Linked DNA regions of Homo sapiens: region 1 is linked to region 2. The links come from fine-mapping of genetic effects on gene expression. A gene starts in region 2. The other region holds a variant in brackets. All regions are shown on one strand. Distances are between the middles of the regions. Region 1 has its middle 49 kb from the start of MIR4536-2. Region 2 holds the start of MAGEH1 (MAGE family member H1).

The links.
Region 1: its variant is fine-mapped to the expression of MAGEH1 in prostate (GTEx, PIP above 0.99).

What each region holds. Positions count from the first base shown.
Region 1 is chrX:55,397,221-55,408,088 of GRCh38, forward strand. No RefSeq gene overlaps it. Among named protein-coding and RNA genes, the nearest start is that of MIR4536-2, 49 kb to the right of the region's middle. The variant C/T (reference allele first, on the strand shown) is at 5,290.
Region 2 is chrX:55,446,464-55,457,331 of GRCh38, forward strand. It overlaps MAGEH1 (MAGE family member H1), which reads left to right and starts at 5,664. Exons shown (of 1, transcript NM_014061.5): 1 at 5,664-7,103. The coding sequence starts at 5,912. The coding sequence ends at 6,571. It overlaps MIR4536-2 (microRNA 4536-2), which reads left to right and starts at 5,032; the gene lies at 5,032-5,119. MIR4536-1 (microRNA 4536-1) reads right to left here and starts at 5,119; the gene lies at 5,032-5,119. RefSeq lists enhancers at 5,877-5,926, 6,077-6,126.

The DNA.
Region 1 (10,868 bases), 49 kb before region 2:
CCTGACCCCCAAGCAGCCTAAATGGGAGGCACCCCCCAGTAGGGGCAGACTGAAACCTCACACGGCCCGGTACTCCTCTGAGACAAAACTCCCAGAGGAATGATCAGGCAGCAGCATCTGCGGGTCACCAAAATCCGCTGTTCTACAGCCACCGCTGTTCTGCAGCCACCACGGCTGACACCCAGGCAAACAGGGTCTGGAGTGGACCTCTAGCAAACTCCAACAGACCTGCAGCTGAGGGTACTGTCTGTTAGAAGGAAAACAAACAAACAGAAAGGACATCCACACCAAAAACCCATCTGTACATCACCATCATCAAAGACCAAAAGTAGATTAAAACCACAAAGATGAGGAAAAAACAGAGCAGAGAAACTGGAAACTCTAAAAAACAGAGTGCCTCTCCTCCTACAAAGGAACGTAGCTACTCACCAGCAACGGAACAAAGCTGGACAGAGAATGACTTTGACAAGCTGAGAGAAGAAGGCTTCAGATGATCAAACTACTCCAAGCTACAGGAGGAAATTCAAACCAATGGCAAAGAAGTTAGAAACTTTGAAAAAAAATTAGAGGAATGGATAACTAGAATAACCAATGCAGAGAAGTCCTTAAAGGAGCTGATGGAGCTGAAAGCCAAGGCTCAAGAACTACGTGAAGAATTCAGAAGCCTCAGGAGCCAATGCGATCAACTGGAAGAAAGGGTATCAGTGATGGAAGATGAAGTGAATGAAATGAAGTGAGAAGGGAAGTTTAGACAAAAAAGAATAAAAATAAATGAACAAAGCCTCCAAGAAATATGGGACTATGTGAAAAGACCAAATCAGCGTCTGATTGGTGTACCTGAAAGGGACGGGGAGAATGGAACCAAGTTGGAAAACACTCTGCAGGATATTATCCAGGAGAACTTCCCCAACCTAGCAAGGCAGGCCAACATTCAGATTCAGGAAATACAGAGAACGCCACAAAGATACTCCTCGAGAAGAGCAACTCCAAGACAAATAATTGTCAGATTCACCAAAGTTGAAATGAAGGAAAAAATGTTAAGGGCAGCCAGAGAGAAAGATTGGGTTACCAACAAAGGGAAGCCTATCAGACTAACAGCTGATCTGTCAGCAGGCACTCTACAAGACAGAAGAGAGTGGGGGCCAATATTCAACATTCTTAAAAGAATTTTCAACCCAGAATTTCGTATCCAGCCAAACTAAGCTTCATAAGTGAAGGAGAAATAAAATACTTTACAGAGAAGAAAATGCTGAGAGATTTTGTCACCACCAGGCCTGCCCTAAAAGAGTTCCTGAAGGAAGCACTAAACATGGAAAGGAACAACCAGTACCAGCCACTGCAAAAACATGCCAAAATGTAAAGACCATCAAGGCTAGAAAGAAACTGCATCAACTAATGAGCAAAATAATCAGCTAACATCATAATGACAGGACCAAATTCATACATAAAAATATTAACTTTAAATATAAGTGGGGTAAGTGCTCCAATTAAAAGACACAGACTGGCAAATTGGATAAAGAGTCAAGACCCATCAGTGTGCTGTATTCAGGAAACCCATCTCACGGGCAGAGACACACGTAGGCTCAAAATAAAGGGATGGAGGAAGATCTACCAAGCAAATGGAAAACAAAAAAAGGCAGGGGTTGCAGTCCTAGTCTCTGATAAAACAAACTTTAAACCAACAAAGATCAAAAGAGACAAAGAAGGCCATTAAGTAATGGTAAAGGGATCAATTCAATGAGAAGAGCTAACTATCCTAAATATATATGCACCCAAGACAGGAGGACCCAGATTCATAAAGCAAGTCCTGAGTGACCTACAGAGAGACTTAGACTCCCACACAATAATAATGGGAGATTTTAACACCCCACTGTCAATATTAGACAGATCAATGAGACAGAAAGTTAACAAGGATATCCAGGAATTGAACTCAGCTCTGCACCAAGCAGACCTAATAGACATCTACAGAACTCTCCACCCCAAATCAACAGAATATACATTTTTTTCAGCACCACACCAGACCTATTCCAAAATTGACCACATAGTTGGAAGTAAAGCACTCCTCAGCAAATGTAAAAGAACAGAAATTATAACAAACTGTCTCTCAGACCACAGTGGAATCAAACTAGAACTCAGGATCAAGAAACTCACTGAAAACTGCTCAACTACATGGAAACTGAACAACCTGCTCCTGAATGACTACTGGATACATAATGAAATGAAGCCAGAAGTAAAGATGTTCTTTGAAACCAATGAGAACAAAGACACAATATACCAGAATCTCTGGGACACATTCAAAGCAGTGTGTAGGAGGAAATTTATAGCACTAAATGCCCACAAGAGAAAGCAGGAAAGATCCAAAATTGACACCCTAACATCACAATTAAAAGAACGAGAAAAGCAAGAGTAAACACATTTAAAAGCTAGCAGAAAGCAAGAAATAACTAAAATCAGAGCAGAACTGAAGGAAATAGAGACACAAAAAACCCTTCAAAAAATTAATGAATCGAGGAGATGGTTGTTTGAAAATATCAACAAAATTGATAGACCACTATTAAGACTAATAAAGAAGAAAAGAGAGAAGAATCAAATAGATGCAATAAAAAATGATAAAGGGGATATCACCACCAATCCCACAGAAATACAAACTACCATCAGAGAATACTACAAACACCTATATCCAATAAACTAGAAAATCTAGAAGAAATGGATAAATTCCTCGACACATACACTCTCCCAAGACTAAACCAGGAAGAAGTTGACTCTCTGAATAGACCAATAACAGGCTCTGAAATTGAGGTAATAATCAATAGCTTACCAACCAAAAAAAGTCCAGGACCAGATGGATTCACAGCCGAATTGTACCAGAGGTACAAGGAGGAGCTTGTACCATTCCTTCTGAAACTATTCCAATCAATAGAAAAAGAGAGAATCCTCCCTAACTCATTTTATGAGGCCAGCATCATCCTGTTACCAAAGCCGGGCAGAGACACAACCAAAAAAGATAATTTTAGACCAATATCCTTGATGAACATTGATGCAAAAATCCTCAGTAAAATACTGGCAAACCGAACCCAGCAGCACATCAAAAAGCTTATCCACCATGATCAAGTAGGCTTCATCCCTGGGATGCAAGGCTGGTTCAATATACGCAAATCAATAAATGTAATCCAGCATATAAACAGAACCAAAGACAAAAACCACATGATTATCTCAATAGATGCAGAAAAGGCCTTCAACAAAATTCAATGACGTTTCATGCTAAAAACTGTCAATAAATTAGGTATTGATGGGACGTATCTCAAAATAATAAGAGCTATCTATGACAAACCCACAGATAATATCATACTGAATGGACAAAAACTGGAAGCATTCCCTTTGAAAAGTGGCACAAGACAGGGATGCCCTCTCTCACCACTCCTATTCAACACAGTGTTGGAAGTTCTGGCCAAGGCAATCAGGCAGAAGAAGGAAATAAAGGGTATTCAATTAGGAAAAGAGGAAGTCAAATTGTCCCTGTTTGCAGATGACATGATTGTATATTTAGAAAACCCCATTATCTCAGCCCAAAATCTCCTTAAGCTGATAGGCAACTTCAGCAAAGTCTCAGGATACAAAATCAATGTGCAAAAATCACAAGCATTCCTATACACCAATAACAGAGAAACAGAGAGCCAAATCATGAGTGAACTCCCATTCACAATTGCTTCAAAGAGAATAAAATACCTAGGAATCCAACTTACAAGGGATGTGAAGGACCTCTTCAGGAGAGCTACAAATCACTGCTCAATGAAATACTAGAGGACACAAACAAACGGAAGAACTTTCGATGCTCATGGATAGGAAGAATCAATATCGTGAAAATGGCCATACTGCCCAAGGTAATTTATAGATTCAATGCCATCCCCATCAAGCTACCAAGGACTTTCTTCACAGAATTGGAAATAACTACTTTAAAGTTCATATGGAACCAAAAAAGAGCCTGCATTGCCAAGTCAATTAAGTCAAAAGAACAAAGATGGAGGCATCACACTACCTGACTTCAAACTATACTACAAGGCCACAGTAACCAAAAGAGCATGGTACTGGTACCAAAACAGAGATATAGATCAATGGAACAGAACAGAGCCTTCAGAAATAATACCACACATCTACAACCATCTGATCTTTGACAAACTTGACAAAAACAAGAAATGGGGAAAGGATTCCCTATTTAATAAATGGTGCTGGGAAAACTGGCTAGCCATATGTAGAAAGCTGAAACTGGATCCCTTCCTTACACCTTATACAAAAATTAATTCAAGATGGATTAAAGACTTAAATGTTAGACCCAAGACCATAAAAACCCTAGAAGAAAACCTAGGCAATACCATTGAGGACATAGGCATGGGAAGGACTTCATGTCTAAAACACCAAAAGCAATGGCAACAAAAGCCAAGACTGACTAATTGGATCTAATTAAACTCAAGAGCTTCTGCACAGCAAAGGAAACTACCATCAGAGTGAACAGGCAACCTACAGAATGGGAGAAAATTTTTGCAATCTACTCATCTGAAAAAGGTCTAATATCCAGAATCTACAAAGAACTCAAACAAATTTACAAGAAAAAAGCAAACAACCTCATCAAAAAGTGGGCAAAGTATATGAACAGACACCTCTCAATAGAAGACATTTGTGCAGACAACAGACACATGAAAAAATGCTCATCATCACTGGCCATCAGAGAAATGCAAATCAAAACTACAATGAGATACCATCTCACACCAGTTAGAATGGTGATCATTAAAAAGTCAGGAAACACAGGTGCTGGAGAGAATGTGGAGAAATAGGAACACTTTTACACTGTTGGTGGGACTGTCCAACAACTGTGGAAGACAGTGTGGCGATTCCTCAAGGATCTTGAACTAGAAATACCATTTGACCCAGCCATCCCATTACTGGGTATACACCCAAAGGATTATATGCTATAAAGACACATGCACACGTATGTTTATTGCAGCACTATTCACAATAGCAAAGACTTGGAACCAACCCAAATGTCCATCAATGATAGACTGGATTAAGAAAATGTGGCATATATACACCATGGAATACTATGCAGCCATAAAAAAGGATGAGTTTATGTCCTTTGTAGGGACATGCATGAAGCTGGAAACCATCATTCTTAGCAAACTATTGCAAGGACAAAAAACCAAACACCGCATTTTCTCACTCATAGGTGGGAATTGAACAATGAGAACACTTGGACACAGGAAGGGGAACATCACACACCGGGGCCTGTTGTGGGGT[C/T]AGGGGAAGGGGGAGGGATAGTATTAGGAGATATTCCTAATGTAAAGGACAAGTTAATGGGTGCAGCACACCAACATAGCACATGTATACATATGTAACAAACCTGCACATTGTGCACGTGTACCCTATAACTTAAAGTATAATAAAAAACATTCTGTATTCTCATGCCTCTTTCAATTGTCCTTTTATTATCTTCCCCATAGTGTCCAGCTCCTCTCAAGTTCTGCTCCAGATTGATTTACATTTCAATTTACTCTCAATTCACTGCTTTAATTCGTGTGCTCAGTTTACCTTCTTGCCACTGCCAGGTTCTGCCTACTAACAGCTTCACAATTGAATCCATTTTGTCTAGCTTTAGTCCCAAGCAGCCGTTTTTAGAGCTGACCAAGGATTGGGTATATACTGAGACAGGATGCTTACAAGAGAAAACATTCTCCAAAGACACACATATTTACTTTACAAACAGTGTAAAATATCACTTTTTGTGCTTATCTCCATAAAGGTGAGAGAATGAGTTACCATGTTCCAAGAATGAATGGATTAATTGGGGATTAATCACTCTGATCACCCTTCTGTTTGTCAACCTTTTGTTTTCCAAATGATTATTCTACATGTATGAACAATTTGTAATAATTAAAAATACAGTAGGTACATCTTTATGAAAATATATTAAAATGTTCAAATATGGAAAATAATAAATAAAATGTTAAAATAGACATAAAAATCTATAAAAATCATCTTTATGAAATACAAAATCAATAACGCCCCTTGATTCTGATAAGTGCACAATTTGTTTGGGGGAGAAAAGTTAAAAAATATCCATTGCCTTAGTAAAAACAAAGGATCAAAATATTTTTAAAAGTGACAGGAATAAACTTGTGGCCTGGGAGAAAAAGCAACAAAACAATTAATGCTGAAAAATAATTTCTAAATGGTAAAAAGAGTGATTGTAAATGATTTATGACCGTATTATTTTGATTTTGAAAGTTTGTTTTCAAGGAAACTGTTTGAATCTTCTCAACTGGGAAGTTTCCACTTATCTTCTACAGAGCTCTCAAGATTTGCCCCAGCTGGTATCTGAGTGACAGCAGGTACAGTAATATTCCTTCTAGTTAGTATCTGTGGTGATACAAGCATTAGGAGATATACCTAAAGTTAAATGATGAGTTAATGGATGCAGCACACCAGCAGGGCACATGTGTATATATATGAAACAAACCTGCACATTGTGCACATGTACCCTAAAACTTAAAGTATAATAATAAAACAAAGAAAAAAAAATGAAACTCAAGCATTCCTTTAGGAGGGCAGTGTCAGAAACCCCAGGAGCCTAGGGCCTCTCACTAGAGACTTTTCAATTATCACGTGACTCAGGAGACTGCCTCAGGCTTCTCATGTGCTTATTTAGACTGTAGGCTTCTAGCTAGAGCAGAGTACATACCCTCCATTGCTGTGTAACCTGTGAATGGTGATCTCTATGTCTTTTCACATTATCATGCTTCTTCATTCACACAAGTGTGGTTTGTGGAGATTAAATGTAAACCTCATGTTTGCTACCTAGACACGCAGACTCTTATTTCCAAACCCAAACCTGAAATAGGAATCAGAATATTTTCAGACTTTTCTTTTTCTTTCTTTCTTTCTTTTTTTTTTTTTTTTGAGATGGAGTCTAGCTCTGTCACCCAGGCTGGAGTGCGGTGGCACGATCTTGGCTCACTGCAACCTCCGCCTCCTGGGTTCAAGCGATTATCCTGCCTCAGCCTCTCGAATAGCTGGGATTACAGGCACCCGCCACCATGCCCAGCTAATTTTTGTATTTTTAGTAGAGATGGGGTTTTACTGTGTTGGCCAGGCTGGTCTCGAACTCCTGACCTCATGATCCGTTTGCCTCAGCCTCCCAAAGTGCTGGGATTACAGGCGTGAGCCACTGTGCCCGGCCTAGACTTTTTTAGAATAATCCATTCACATCACAGCAGTGAGTGAGAATTTCAGGGAGCAGATGAAGTTTATTCCTCAGTGTTTCACCAGAAAAACCTGCATTGGCCACATTCTCTAACCAGAAGGATTCCCCTCTATATTCTTCTTCTGGGAAGCCTCTAAATTTCTCTAGATCTTGCCCTACTTGGTTATCAGCTCCCCTCTACCCCCATTACAATAGAACAATTATAAATCAAATGTAAGAATCTCTCAGTTTCTAAAGCTAAATGGGAACACCTTACCCTTTACTGAATTTTGCCTTGAAATATGTAAAAAGACATTTAGTATTCTAAAGCTAAAAACAGCACTCAGAAAAAAACAATCTCCTCCACTTAGTATAACTGACTTCCTTAAAAGGCAATAGAGAATTTTAAGTAAACATTGTTTTCCTATGGATACATATACAATATAAACGGGCATATTAGTGTTGTTGTTAGGTAGGATGGAGACATTGAGTCTCATGTTACTTCATTAGCAGTATCCATTCAGATAGCCACCTACAGATATCTATTAGAAGCAAATAAAATATAACATACATACAGCATGCTGTCACTCATCTAGGGATTAAAGTCATTTGGACCCATGGAACTGGCATTTGGACCAATAGGAATGTATTGATCAGTGTTTCACTGATTACAAGCTGATTGTAAGCGTTGCATTATAGCCTTATACCAGCTATCAAAACTAGGTTTTTCAACGTTAGTAGTTGATGTAGAATTTTAAGACTCTCACCAGCACATTAGAGCAGTCTGCTGCAGAAAGGTGTGCATTAGGCAGATGTGTTTTTACCACCTGCTTTCTGTCTTAATAATGCAAATAACAGTTATGGGGCCCTATTAAGTGCCGGGTGCATTTTTGATGTGTTATCTGATTTAATCCTCACAATATCCCCCTGGGATGAATATAATTATCACATTTTATAGATGAAGAATATGAGACATGGAGAGATTAAGTAATTGACTAAAGATCAAATAGCTAATAAGTTGTCAAGCCCAAGATGTGAATACAGGTCTGCTTTGACTCCACACACCCTATATTTATCACTAAAATATAAAGCTCTCTGGCATCTGGCATTCTGATTTTTTTAAAAAAGAAAATAGCCCAAAGTGGGAAGATTAAACTTTGTTAGGAGACTAGTATTTTCCCTCACCAAGAGGCTCAGCTACATTTTGCTGGTGGTACAATGTGAAGACAGTGCAAAGGGAAAATAGCTGGGTGACAGGTGGGATTGCTAAGCAACAGTTTATGAAATCCAGTGAAACCATGGCAATGGAACACTATGGTCCCAGTCATGAACCTATTCAACATTCAAGAGTAAGACACAGCTATCGGGAACATCTGGTAAGATAAATCAAGAGTGCTATAAACTTTGGAAATATAAGGCATCAGTATCACTATTGTTATTACCAACACATATGATACAAATAATCAAAGCAATCAGTGCATTTCAAACAAATAATTGCTTCATTAAAAATGTCATTGTCACATATAGAAACTTTATTTTCCTTGACAAACAAATTTTCTGCTTTCTTTTCTCATCAAACACAACTCTTCACTTTGATTAAAGAATGGATCTGTGCTACACCAGAACACTTTGCATTTTAAAGCATTTTGGATTTACAATGTGCTTCCTGACAATGTGTTTCTGACAATGATGCTGAAACAGGTATTATCATTCCCACTGCACAGAAAGAAAAACTGCAGCTTTAAGGAATTTAAGCAACTTGTCCAAGGCACACTGTTAGTCAATATCACATCCTAAACTTCTACAGAGGTCTACTTCTAGACAAGAGCTTCTCCCAGTCAAAGTACTTTTTATAATTCCCTAAGCCACATACCTATCTGAGAATCTGACCAAGCTCGTGGTCCCTTCCTCTGTCCTTTTTGATGATTGTGTCATCTCCCTGGGCTTTGTCAGTTATTACATACACCTCACCCCAAATGTCTGTGTCCTAAGAGTTTGATCACAAAAATGGACCCTTGATCTAGCAGCAACTCAAAACCCTGCTTAACTTTCTGCCTTGCACTAACCTGCACCAATCCACCTTCTCTATGCCCAAACCAGCACTTTAAATAATGAAGTCAGGAGACATTGTTTCGCAAGACCCTTTCAGGCTAGAGTAATACCTTTGTCCCTCTTTCTTACTCTCAAGATTGTCTATGTAGGGTAGACTTCCACACTCGATATGAAACATATCAGTTAAGGACAGTGTACAATACTTTAGAGGGTAAAAACTCATGTTTACTGAAGTTCTGATCATTCCATTCTCCATCATCTTATGTAAATCAGAAGACATAAGCCTCATTTTTCCAGTTCCAGTTTGACTTGCACCATTGACATTATAGCTAGAAGGATCCACTTCGATATGCACTGTTTACAGCCAGAACTGCCTATTATAGAACATGTGAGAAAAGCTGCAATGTCAGAATGCAACATTTCTGTGAGGTGTAATGCTCTAAAAATTCTTTTGGAGATAATTATGATGACTGAACATGCATGGATATGAGATACACACAATCATGATCACCTTTGACCAGTGCCTCCTCAATGTGGTCCCAGTATTTGGAGAGTGTAGTGGGGCTCAACTCTATTTGAATGGCTATTCGCATGTTACAGACAATAGAGAGTATCCACACTTGCAGTGATACAATGCTTAGCTATTTCCTAATGTCATGCATTTCCTTACAGGTCTTCTGAGGGTCTTCTATACATATAATGTCCTCAGTTTACCACTTCTTATTACACATAAGTCTTATAGAAGAACATCCTAGGAAGAACATACAAGGAGGCATCAGACTGGTATGTTCAGTGAACTAAGTACAACATCTGAAGTCTCCTCAGTTTTTTAGTGGACACTAAAGTTGGTGGTGATGGTATTCCTTGTACCAGATCACAGAAAGCTCTATCAGGAGCAACTTAAGCCAGATTAAGAGTTAATAGGAAGGAAACCAGATCTCTACAGCTTATTGGATTACTGTCCAAATAAATTACAGATATAGTTAACTACATTATTCCTCTACGGACTAAGATCTTCCACATGGTGTTGTAAAAACATTTTTTTCAGTAGCAGAACCTTTTCTTCACATATTACCTCAAACCCCAAAGCATAAAACTTTGGTTGAAGCATTCAGTAGCAGAGAACTTTTTGCAAATATTACTTGGAACCCCTCAAGTAAATTCCAGATTCTCACTAGCTTACTCTCTACCTTGCTTCCCAAGGTAGTATTCAAGGCAACTTCATGGAACTCATGGGCATCAAGAACCATAGTTGTAAATTAATGTAGAATAGAGGAACCAGCCCTCTGAGTAAGACATAAAGATGTAAAGAGGAGTCAGCAATGAAATCTCTGCAGCTCTGTATCTCGCATCACAGCCAAAAGCTCTAGGTTTGATATTCTACCTCAAGTGTCTAAGATGAAAATTCCAAAATCTTGGATCTTGAACTGCTTTCTACATGGGTGAGTTTTAATTCCAGAAAGATTATAAATAATATACATATGACAAACTGAATTGAATCCATGCTCTTAAAATTTTGTGTACAGATTAGGAATAGTCTCTATATATCTTTTATTTAAAGGTTTGCAATGGTAAGAGAATTGGG
Region 2 (10,868 bases):
TAGGATCTCGTGTTTTGAAAAGATAAACAAAATTGATAGACCACTAGCGAGACTAATAAAGAAGAAAAGAGAATCAAATAGATGCAGTAAAAAATGATGAAGGGGATATCACCACTGATCCTACAGAAATACAAACTACCATCAGAGAATACTATGAACACCTCTACGCAAATAAACTAGAAAATCTAGAAGAAATGGATGAATTCCTGGACACACACACCCTCCCAAGACTAAACCAGGAAGAAGTTGAATCTCTGAATAGACCAATAACTGAAATTATTGCTGAAATTAAGGCAATAATTAATAGCTTTCCACCCAAAAAAAGTCCAGGAGCAGACGGATCCACAGCCGAATTCTACCAGGGGTATAAAGAGGAGCTGGTACCATTTCTTCGGAAACTATTCCAATCAACAGAAAAAGAGGGAATACTCCCTAACTCATTTTATGAGGCCAGCATCATCCTGATACCAAAGCCTGGCTGAGACAAAACAAAAAAAGAGAATTTAGACCAATATCCCTGATGAACATTGATGCAAAAATCCTCAATAAAATACTGGCAAACCGAATCCAGCAGCACATCAAAAAGCTTAGCCACCATGATCAAGTTGGCTTCATCCCTGGGATGCAAGGCTGGTTCAACATACACAAATCAATAAACATAATCCATCACATAAACAGAACCAATGACAAAAAAACACATGATTATCTCAATAGATGCAGAAAAGGCCTTCGACAAAATTCAACAGCCCTTCATGCTAAAAACTCTCAATAAACTAGGTATCAATGGAACATGTCCCAAAATAATAAAGGCTATTTATGACAAACCCATAGCCAATATCATACTGAATGGGCAAAAACTGGAAGCATCCCCTCTGAAAACCGGCACAAGACAAGGATGCCCCCTCTCACCACTCCTACTCAACATAGTATTGGAAGTTCTGGCCAGGGCAATCAGGCAAGAGAAAGAAATAAAGAGTATTCCCTTAGGAAAAGAGGAAGTCAAATTGTCCCTGTTTGCAGATGACATGATTGTATATTTAGAAAACCCCATTGTCTCGGCCCAAAATCTCCTTAAGCTGATAAACAACTTCAGCATAGTCTCAGGTTACAAAATCAATTTGCAACAATCACAAGCATTTCTATACACCAACAACAGACAAACAGAGAGCCAAATTATGAGTGAACTCCCATTCACAATTGCTACAAAGAGAATAAAATACCTAGAAATCCAACTTACAAGGGAAGTGAAGGACCTCTTCAAGGAGAACTGTAAACCACTGCTCAATGAAATAAAAGAGGATACAAACAAATGGAAGAACATTCCATGCTCATGGGTAGGAAGAATCAATATCGTGAAAATGGCCATACTGCCCAAGGTAATTTATAGATTCAGTGCCATCCCCATCAAGCTACCAATGACTTTCTTCACAGAATTGGAAAAAACTACTTTAAAGTTCATATGGAACCAAAAAAGACCCCACATTGCCAAGACAATCCTAAGCAAAAAGAACAAAGCTGGAGGCATCATGCTACCTGACTTTATAGTACAAGGCTACAGTAACCAAAACAGCATGGTACTGGTACCAAAACAGAGATACAGTCCAGTGGAACAGAACAGAGCCCTCAGAAATAATACCACAAATCTACAACCATCTGATCTTTGACAAACCTGACAAAAACAAGTAATGGGGAAAGCATTCCCTATTTAATATATGGTGCTGGGAAAACTGGCTAGCCATATGTAGAAAGCTGAAACTGGATCCCTTCATTACACCTTATACAAAAATTAATTCAAGATGGGTGAAAGACTTAAATGTTAGACCTGAAACCATAAAAATCCTAGAAGAAAACCTAGGCATTACCATTCAGGACATAGGCATGGGCAAGGACTTCATGACTAAAACATCAAAAGCAATGGCAACAAAAGCCAAAATAGACAAATGGATCTAATTAAACTAAAGATCTTATGCACAGCAAAACAAACTACCATCAGAGTGAACAGGCAACCTACAGAATGGGAGAAAATTTTTACTATCTACCCATCTGACAAAGGGCTAATATCAAGAATCTACAAAGAACTTAAACAAATTTTCAACAAAACAAACAACCCCATCAAAAAGTGGGCAAGGGATATGAACAGACACTTCTCAAAAGAAGACATTTATGCAGCCAACAGACACATGAAAAAATGCTCATCATCACTGGTTATCAGAGAAATGCAAATCAAAACCACAATGAGATACCATCTCACACCAGTTAGAATGGCAATCATTAAAAAGTCAGGAAACAACAGATGCTGGAGAGGATGTGGAGAAATAAGAAAGCTTTTACACTGCTGGTGGGAGTGTAAATTAGTTCAACCATTGTGGAAGACAGTGTGGCAATTCCTCAAGGATCTAGAACTAGAAATACCATTTGACCCAGTGATCCCATTACTGGGTGTATACCCAAAGGATTATAAATCATTCTACTATAAAGACACATGCACACATATGTTTATTGTGGCACTGTTCACAATAGCAAGGACTTGGAACCAACCCAACTGTCTATCAATGATAGACTGGGTTAAGAAAATGTGACACATATACACCATGGAATACTATACAGCCATAAAAAAGGATGATTTCATGTCGTTTGTAGGGACATGGATGAAGCTAGAAACCAACATTCTGAGCAAACTATCACAAGGACAGAAAACCAAACACTGTATGTTCTCCCTCATAGGTGGGAATTGAACAATGAGAACACTTGGACACAGGGAGGGGAACATCACACCCTGGGGCCTGTCGTGGGGTGGAGGGTAGGGGGAGGGATAGCATTAGGAGAAATACCCAATGTAAATGACGAGTTAATGGGTGCAGCAAATCAACATGGCACATGTATACCTATGTAACAAAGTTGCACGTTGTGCACATGTACCCTAGAACTTAAAGTATAATAATAATAGAAAAAGAAAATTAAATAAGTTGGAAATACAGTACGCCCAGCCAACAGGCAGACACTTGAAGAGATTATGGTAAATCCATTGCAAGGAATAACATTCAGCCACTAGAATGAAAGAATTAGAGGTATAAATTGAGGAGATTTCATTATTAATTAGGAAAAAGGTTTGCCTGGAAATTCAATATGGAATGGTTTGATTTTTATAAATGAAACAAAGTGGAAAGCCATGTGTTCTATCTAAACATATACATGCCAACACATCAGCAACCCTACTCGTTGATGTTGATCCTAGAGAAATGCATGCACATGTTCATAGGGAACATGCGCACAAATATTAATAAGAGTATTATTTTGTTTTGGAAAAATGGGAACTGCATAGGCGTGGATCATTAGGAACAGGATAAATTGAAAATGATGAAATGTACAAAATTAAAATAAATGAACTAGAGTTCCATGTATTTACATGGGTAAACATAAAAAATATAAAGTTGAGCTGGAAAACCAAAGTGTTGATCAATGTATACATTATGAAGACGTGCTTTAAATAAAGGAAGAGATTCTATATTGTGTACAGACACAGAAGTAGGTAGCAAATATATACAAGTCTCCATGGGCATAATTGCTGACTTCATTATAGAGGAGCACAGTGGGGAAGGAGAGAGCAGAGTGGGTCAGGGAAGACGTAATAGGAGGGTTTTGCCATATCCAATATATAAAAGATAAACAGTAAGTAGGGCCTAATATTTAAATTTTATACAGCTAGCTATTGGTGTTTATAATATTAATCTCTCTTCTTTGCCCTACGTTTGAGATTAAGTCGCAGTAAAAAAAAATTCATGCTAAAAACAAGCAAATAAACTGCAAAAGTAATCCTCCCATTTTTGTTTCATGAGGGTAGGATTGTACATGCTATAGACTTCCATGCAAGACCCAAATTCCTGGAAACAGTAAAATAAGTTCATACCTGTACTGAAAAACAATTCAGAGCAATTATCAATGGACCAGAAACTGCGAGAATTCTCAGAATGTGGGACAGCAGATGGAGCCAGACTACTGTTTTGAGTAGGTCATGTCCCAGAACGCGTGCAAAGGTTATCCCAAACGGAGGGCTGGCTCAAGAGTGCTCTGTGTCCTGGAGAGGTGCTTTCTTTGCTTGACCAAATTGATTTATTGCTAACTTACCCAACAGGAGGTCTCGGTGGGCTCTAATTATAAAGAAAATTTCAGCAAGACAGGCATAAAGTATTCATTTGTTTCTTAAGAGTTCAGTTAAGAACACCTATAAAATCTTTTCCATCATGAATTCCTTCAGCACGCATTTATTAAATGCCACACTCACACACCGCTTGGAAAACCTTGAGAGGCAAAATCTGTGCTTACCATGTAATAAATGCTTTTCATTTTTTATCTCATTTAATTCTCACAACCCTATGAGGGCTGTACTTTAGCCCCACTTTATAGATGGGAAAACAGGCTTAGAGAGAAGTGACTTGCTTAAACTAATACCTTGAATGACATAAGAAAGATATAGAGTGCTAGTTATAGGGCTTTCCTCAATGGAGTAAAAATGGACTCATTACCCTTTTGGGCAGATCAAGACAAGCTTCAGGGAGAAACAGGTCTGTGAGCAGTCAAATGGAATTTAGATAGTTGGAGAAGGCTGAGAAGACAGGTCAGGCAGAGCAAACAGTGAGCAAAAGCAAGCAGTGGATAAAGTTCAGAGTATGCTCTGAAAGAAGCAAAATAAATCAGGAGTCCAGGAAGACTGGAGCCTAGAAACCTTGGAGCCAATCTGAACTCCATCATCCCCTCCACATTCCCCACTTCATCCATTCTGTCTGCAAAGCCCTTCAACGGTCACCTTTAAAATGTCTTTCTGCCTCTCCATCCCCATGGCAACAGCCTTAAGGCATACTTTAGTTCCCAGTGCTTCTTATTCCAATTGCTTCCTATGTGGTCTGCCAGGAAACAGTTTGCTTTTCTGAGAGGCTGCACAAATGCAATTCCTCTGATCCTGTCACTGCCCTGCTTTCATACATACATACATACATATATGTGTGGTAGATATATGCACTGTATATAAACATAATGTGGTAGATATATGCACGATATAGGTATGTATGTATGTATGTATAAAAGCAGGGCAGTATATATATCGTGCATATATCTACCACATTTTAAAGGCTCTGCACCTCTTTCACCCTGCTTGTTTCTGCAGTCCCATCTCCTCACATCATCCAGCACATCTGCCATAACAATATTATCCGGGTCCTACATGGGACCACAAATTGATTAGTATACACACAAATGCCTTCTGAAAACAGGGCGAGTGAATGAACGCGCTGTGTAAGCCAAGACAGGAAAGGAAGGCTGGAGACAGCTGACTCCTTCCAAGAATACACCCTCCCGCCACCCCTGGCCTCCCAACCCCCAACACACACACAGCCCGTCGTCAGTGGGAATGGAGCCGACGCACTCCTTCCCTAGACCGTCGAGCCAATCTTGGAATGTTTGTAGTAGGCTGAAAATACAGAAACTTTAAGCTATTTTTTTCTCTTCTGCAAACTCCAGGCCCCTCCAATCTCTAGCTGTCATTTCTGCCCTTGTCCCACCCCTGTCGCTGCCTGCCCCTTTTCCTATCTGCTAGCGGAAGTCCCTGTGGAGGACCAGCCTACTTCCTCTTTGGTGCTAGGAGTGTGCGTGGCAGGAGAGGCGGGGCCAATTTTGCTGAGCTTTCTCGCGGGCTTGCAGCTGCGGCAAGTGCTGGCGGCGGCTGCTCGCGCAAGTCAGCTGGCGTGGGAACTACCCTTTGTAGCTGAGAACGGCTTGTTTATTGCTACAAAGACTCTATTGACATTGGTAGCTTCAGCGGCAGCAGCTTCTTACGGTATAAAGCTGTTGCTTCCTGAAGAGGCTACAAGCATCCTTCCCTAGGACTGCTGTAAGCTTTGAGCCTCTAGCAGGAGACATGCCTCGGGGACGAAAGAGTCGGCGCCGCCGTAATGCGAGAGCCGCAGAAGAGAACCGCAACAATCGCAAAATCCAGGCCTCAGAGGCCTCCGAGACCCCTATGGCCGCCTCTGTGGTAGCGAGCACCCCCGAAGACGACCTGAGCGGCCCCGAGGAAGACCCGAGCACTCCAGAGGAGGCCTCTACCACCCCTGAAGAAGCCTCGAGCACTGCCCAAGCACAAAAGCCTTCAGTGCCCCGGAGCAATTTTCAGGGCACCAAGAAAAGTCTCCTGATGTCTATATTAGCGCTCATCTTCATCATGGGCAACAGCGCCAAGGAAGCTCTGGTCTGGAAAGTGCTGGGGAAGTTAGGAATGCAGCCTGGACGTCAGCACAGCATCTTTGGAGATCCGAAGAAGATCGTCACAGAAGAGTTTGTGCGCAGAGGGTACCTGATTTATAAACCGGTGCCCCGTAGCAGTCCGGTGGAGTATGAGTTCTTCTGGGGGCCCCGAGCACACGTGGAATCGAGCAAACTGAAAGTCATGCATTTTGTGGCAAGGGTTCGTAACCGATGCTCTAAAGACTGGCCTTGTAATTATGACTGGGATTCGGACGATGATGCAGAGGTTGAGGCTATCCTCAATTCAGGTGCTAGGGGTTATTCCGCCCCTTAAGTAGATCTGAGGCAGACCCTTGGGGGTGTAAAAGAGAGTCACAGGTACCCCAAGGAGTAGATGCCAGGGTCCTAAGTTGAAAATGATGTCGATTGGGGGCGGGGGACACTGTATTTGATATTTGTGATCAGTGATCATTGTTCAACTGCGAAATAGAGTGTTTGCTTTTGATAATGGAAAATTGTATTCGTTTTAAAATTCCGTTTGTTGAGAATAACAATATGTTTAAAAATATAATTGAACAAATTTTTTTCTTTGTTTCCTGTCATTGACATTTAGTATAACAGTTTTGCTAACGTTCTAAAATGAAGTCGTTCCATCATAATCTATGATCTTGTACAGCACTTATAGAAATAAGCTGTTCTTTTGAAGTTGAAATACCCAGTAAAATGTTGAAGAAGGATGGAGGATTTCTTCATATCTGACGTTTCTGAAACCCTTTGTGTCTGCTGTTGTGTGAAGATTGACATTTACCATGATTTTCCTTAGTTACTGCAGAACATAGAGAAAAATAAAAGCCTAACGAATAGTACATCTTGCGCATTTTCTGACCACCTGTTATGTGAGGCACCAGTCTAGATTCTAGGGATACTCCCTAGTACACATCCTCCAGGTCCAAAGAATGTTCTAGATTATGTGGGAAAGAAAAATAGGTAAACTGGCAGTGCAGTAAATGCTGGGATAGAGAACGAGCCTGAAGTGCCATGAAAATGTAAAAAACCTTATGTGACCTGTCTTGGGGAGTGGGCCGGGGAAGGGAGCACCATAGGATGTGTGAAAATTCAAGAGACACTTAAATAAGTTTGGGGGGGACTGAAATATACGATCAGAATATATGATGAAAATATTATGTATTAGATATTTGATTGGATACTCCACCCAGCATAGGGGAGGGAGCACTGGCAAAAAGAAGAGGACATCACAGGGTGCCTGCCACGGAAGTAGAAAATACACAAAAATCATCTTGAGAGGAGGAGGGCAGAGAGAAGGGGTGGTTGCAGGGGAAAAGGTTGTCATGGGGTACTTCAGAAATAAAAAAAGATGAGACCGTCAGAAAATCTTGGTGAGGGGACAATCTGAGGTTTGGAAATAATAGAGAAGAAGGGGAGGGAGTAAAAATGGAGGCACTGAAGGTAGCGTGGACATTTGGAAATAAACTCTTCACCGAACTGTTAAGGTTATATGAAGGGGAAAGTGGAGAACAAGGAATGAGGCAAGGGAAGAAGTGAGCGGGGCAGACCCTCAAAGGGTGGGTGTTGTGGCTGACTTTAAACTAATGACAATAAAAATGGTTAATAATAACAACCCTGAAATAATTCGAGAAAAGGCTATAAAAAAGCAGAACTTCTGAGATACTGGATGAGCCAGAGAAAAGGCTCCACCTGTGGCATCTCCGAAAGGTAACCTTGCACTTCTCTCAGGAACTATGGTTCGTTAGGGTGCACACATTGTTTAAAAGTGTGTGTGTCCAAGGGGGCAAAGGGGCAATGGAGTAAGTCCGGATTGGTACCTGGCACGATGGCCCATGCTATACTAAGTCATGTGGGATCAGGCGCAAATCCTACCACCTTTTCTCCAAGAGCTAAGCACTGCATGAACTAGGTCCCCTGCTGGGGAGCACTAGTGACAAGTGCCCAACCTAGCCCTGTGGGGCTCATGGTAGCAGCTATAACACACAAAAGAGTGGTCAGGCTACCTTCTTCCTTCTTGACATCCAGGCTCACGCTGCTTCCAGCTGTGTGCAAAGTAACGTCACTAGGTGCAGGGTAGGCTAGCAAATGACCTTCTGGAGAAGGCCCAGGGACCCACTCTCCTCAGCTTGCAGGCCAAGGAGGCTTCAAACAAAAGTAGTAACTATGACCCCATCAGCAGCTCCAAATTCATTCAGCAAGCCAGAAAATGGTGAGCGCCTTCTGGGATTCAGACAGTGTGTTAGAAACTGGAGCTGCAGAAAATCAAAAGGCCTGTTCTTTGCCCTGGGAGGAGCTGTATTTATCAATACCACCTCCAGAGGTAAACAAGGTGGGAATCTGAGGTCCAGGTTCCTCGGTGACTTTCTCTTCTAGAGCCACAGAAGTGGCAAGAGAGAGATCCTAGACAAGACCCTATGTCCATTCCCTGCAAACCCACAGTGCTTTCCTCTAGGCCACCCTGCTGCCGGTCTCTGCCTGCTAGTGCACTCTCAAGGTCTCTGTCCTCAAAAGAAACACCACGTGAAGGCAGGGGAAGAGGTGTGAGTAACCCTGGCCGCGGCATCCAATCCTTCTGGGGACCAGGCCGGATTACATTCCTCCCCCGACCCGCCCTTTTACCCAAGGGGGCTTACAGCAGTCAGTCAGCCCCAGGTCAGTCAGCTAGTAAGTGGGAGAGCTGCAGAGTAAAAAGATTTGTTGAGCACCTGCCTGTCCCAGAGGCATGCCACATATTATCTCTGCCAGGCCGGTGTGATTACTGCCCATTTAACAGGATGCTCCTCCGGCTAGCTCAGGGGAAGAGGTAATGTCTTCCCCAACCCTGTCTGAATCCATGCTTTCTTCGGCTCTGGTGGCAAGTTATCATCCAATGGTCTAAAATGGTTCTTTGCAAGTACGGGCCAAGAAGCTTAATTCAGTCAGAGAACCAGCAGTATAAGAGGAGAAAGACTGGGAGAATACCTCCAGCTGCCCTGTCAGAGAGATGACTGCTGGAATCCTGAAGGCCTCAGGCAGGAGGCTCTGCAGGGGATTGGGAAACAAGGGATTGGGTGACAGGTGACCTGCCCTAGCGCAAGAAGGAAGCGATCAATGGGCCAGGCTTATTCTCTTGTGGCCTGGGGGTTCAGTCTCCCTAACACACTACAGGAGTACTGCAAAGAGTTAAACTTCCTTTGATTAGATAAAGGCTGAAGAAGGGCGGGACTTCCGGTGGCTGTGAAATGAAAGACAGGGGTGAGGGAGAGGCAGGGAAAGGGGCTTCTGGAAGGTGGAGAGAAAAAGAAAACATTCACCGTGCCATTTACAAAAATTCTTTGAGCTTTGCGGGGCATCCAGATGAGACATCCAGGTGCAAGCCTCTTGCTGAGTAAATCTGAAACCTAAACTGGCCCCACCCCAGCGGAGGTTCCACAAAGCAAGTGGGAAAGCTGCAGTTTTAGGTGCAAGGATGCCTCTGAAAAGCGATTGAGTTTCTGGGTCCTAGAACACTCCAGTTGTTAGGATAACTCAAGGATAGAGAGCCCCAAGCTGCCCAAAGCCTAGCAAACTTGGCAGCTGGCATTTACCGAGTGCCTAAATTGTTCCAGGCACTTTGATTGCTGTTTTCATGCATTGTCTCTAACTTTGCAGTAGTCCTGCAAGGGAGATGCCACCAGGCCAGGCCGAGTTTACAGAGGAGAAAACCCCAACTCAGATCTCACAAGCAAGTTGCCAGGATCAGCTGGCTGGTCACTGGCAGCCTTGCAGGTGGACCCAGGGCCTGCCAAGTCTGAAGCCCATGCTGCTATGCTACAGGGAAAGACTCCATCTCCAGGACAGCTGGGGCTGGGAAAGTCTTCTGTTTTCAAACTTGGACACATGGCAGGGTAGGAGTGACAGGGAACATGCCGGGGTCAGGTGAGGAGGTGTGGGAAAATAAAATTAATCTGCACTTTCAGGATTAGCTGTGGCAGTCTGTCCCTTTATTTGGAAGGGCTGGGGCCCTATTGCCAGGCATCTTTGAGGGATCATATGTGTGGAGTGAGCATTTCCTTCCAAGACAAGTGGACTTCCCCATCACGACACATTCCCCAGAAACTTAACTACCCAGCACCCTCCATCAGTCCTCAAAATCCTAGGTCCTGGCTTTCCCACGGTGGACCAAGCAAACAACAATGTTTCTGAGCCTGTGACATTGCTCCGATACTGTTGCCAATGCAGAAGATACTGGCAGACCTCTTCCCTTGAGCAGAGCAACCGGGATAAGATGCTGACAGACAGCAAACAGTGGGCATCTGCCCATGAAAAAAAGACAGGTTCCAGGGCATCCTCCTTGGGCCCAGTGTTGCGGCCTTGGCCCCAGCAGGCAAGTGCAGAGCAGACAATGGCCATGACCAAAGGGAGATTTGGATTCGGCCTGGGCTCACGTTGGCTCCTGTGAGGTGGGTAGCGGGCAGGATCCCCCCGACTCTTTTCTTTGGCAGAAAGGTAGAATTCTGGCCTTCTGGAGGAAATTATTTTGGAGTCGTGGTGGAGGTGGAGAAGGGTGATTCTTACGAAGATGTGCTGAGACCTGTACACAGATTCCTCCAGGGCTCGTGAGCCATGGAACAGTTAAATGTCAA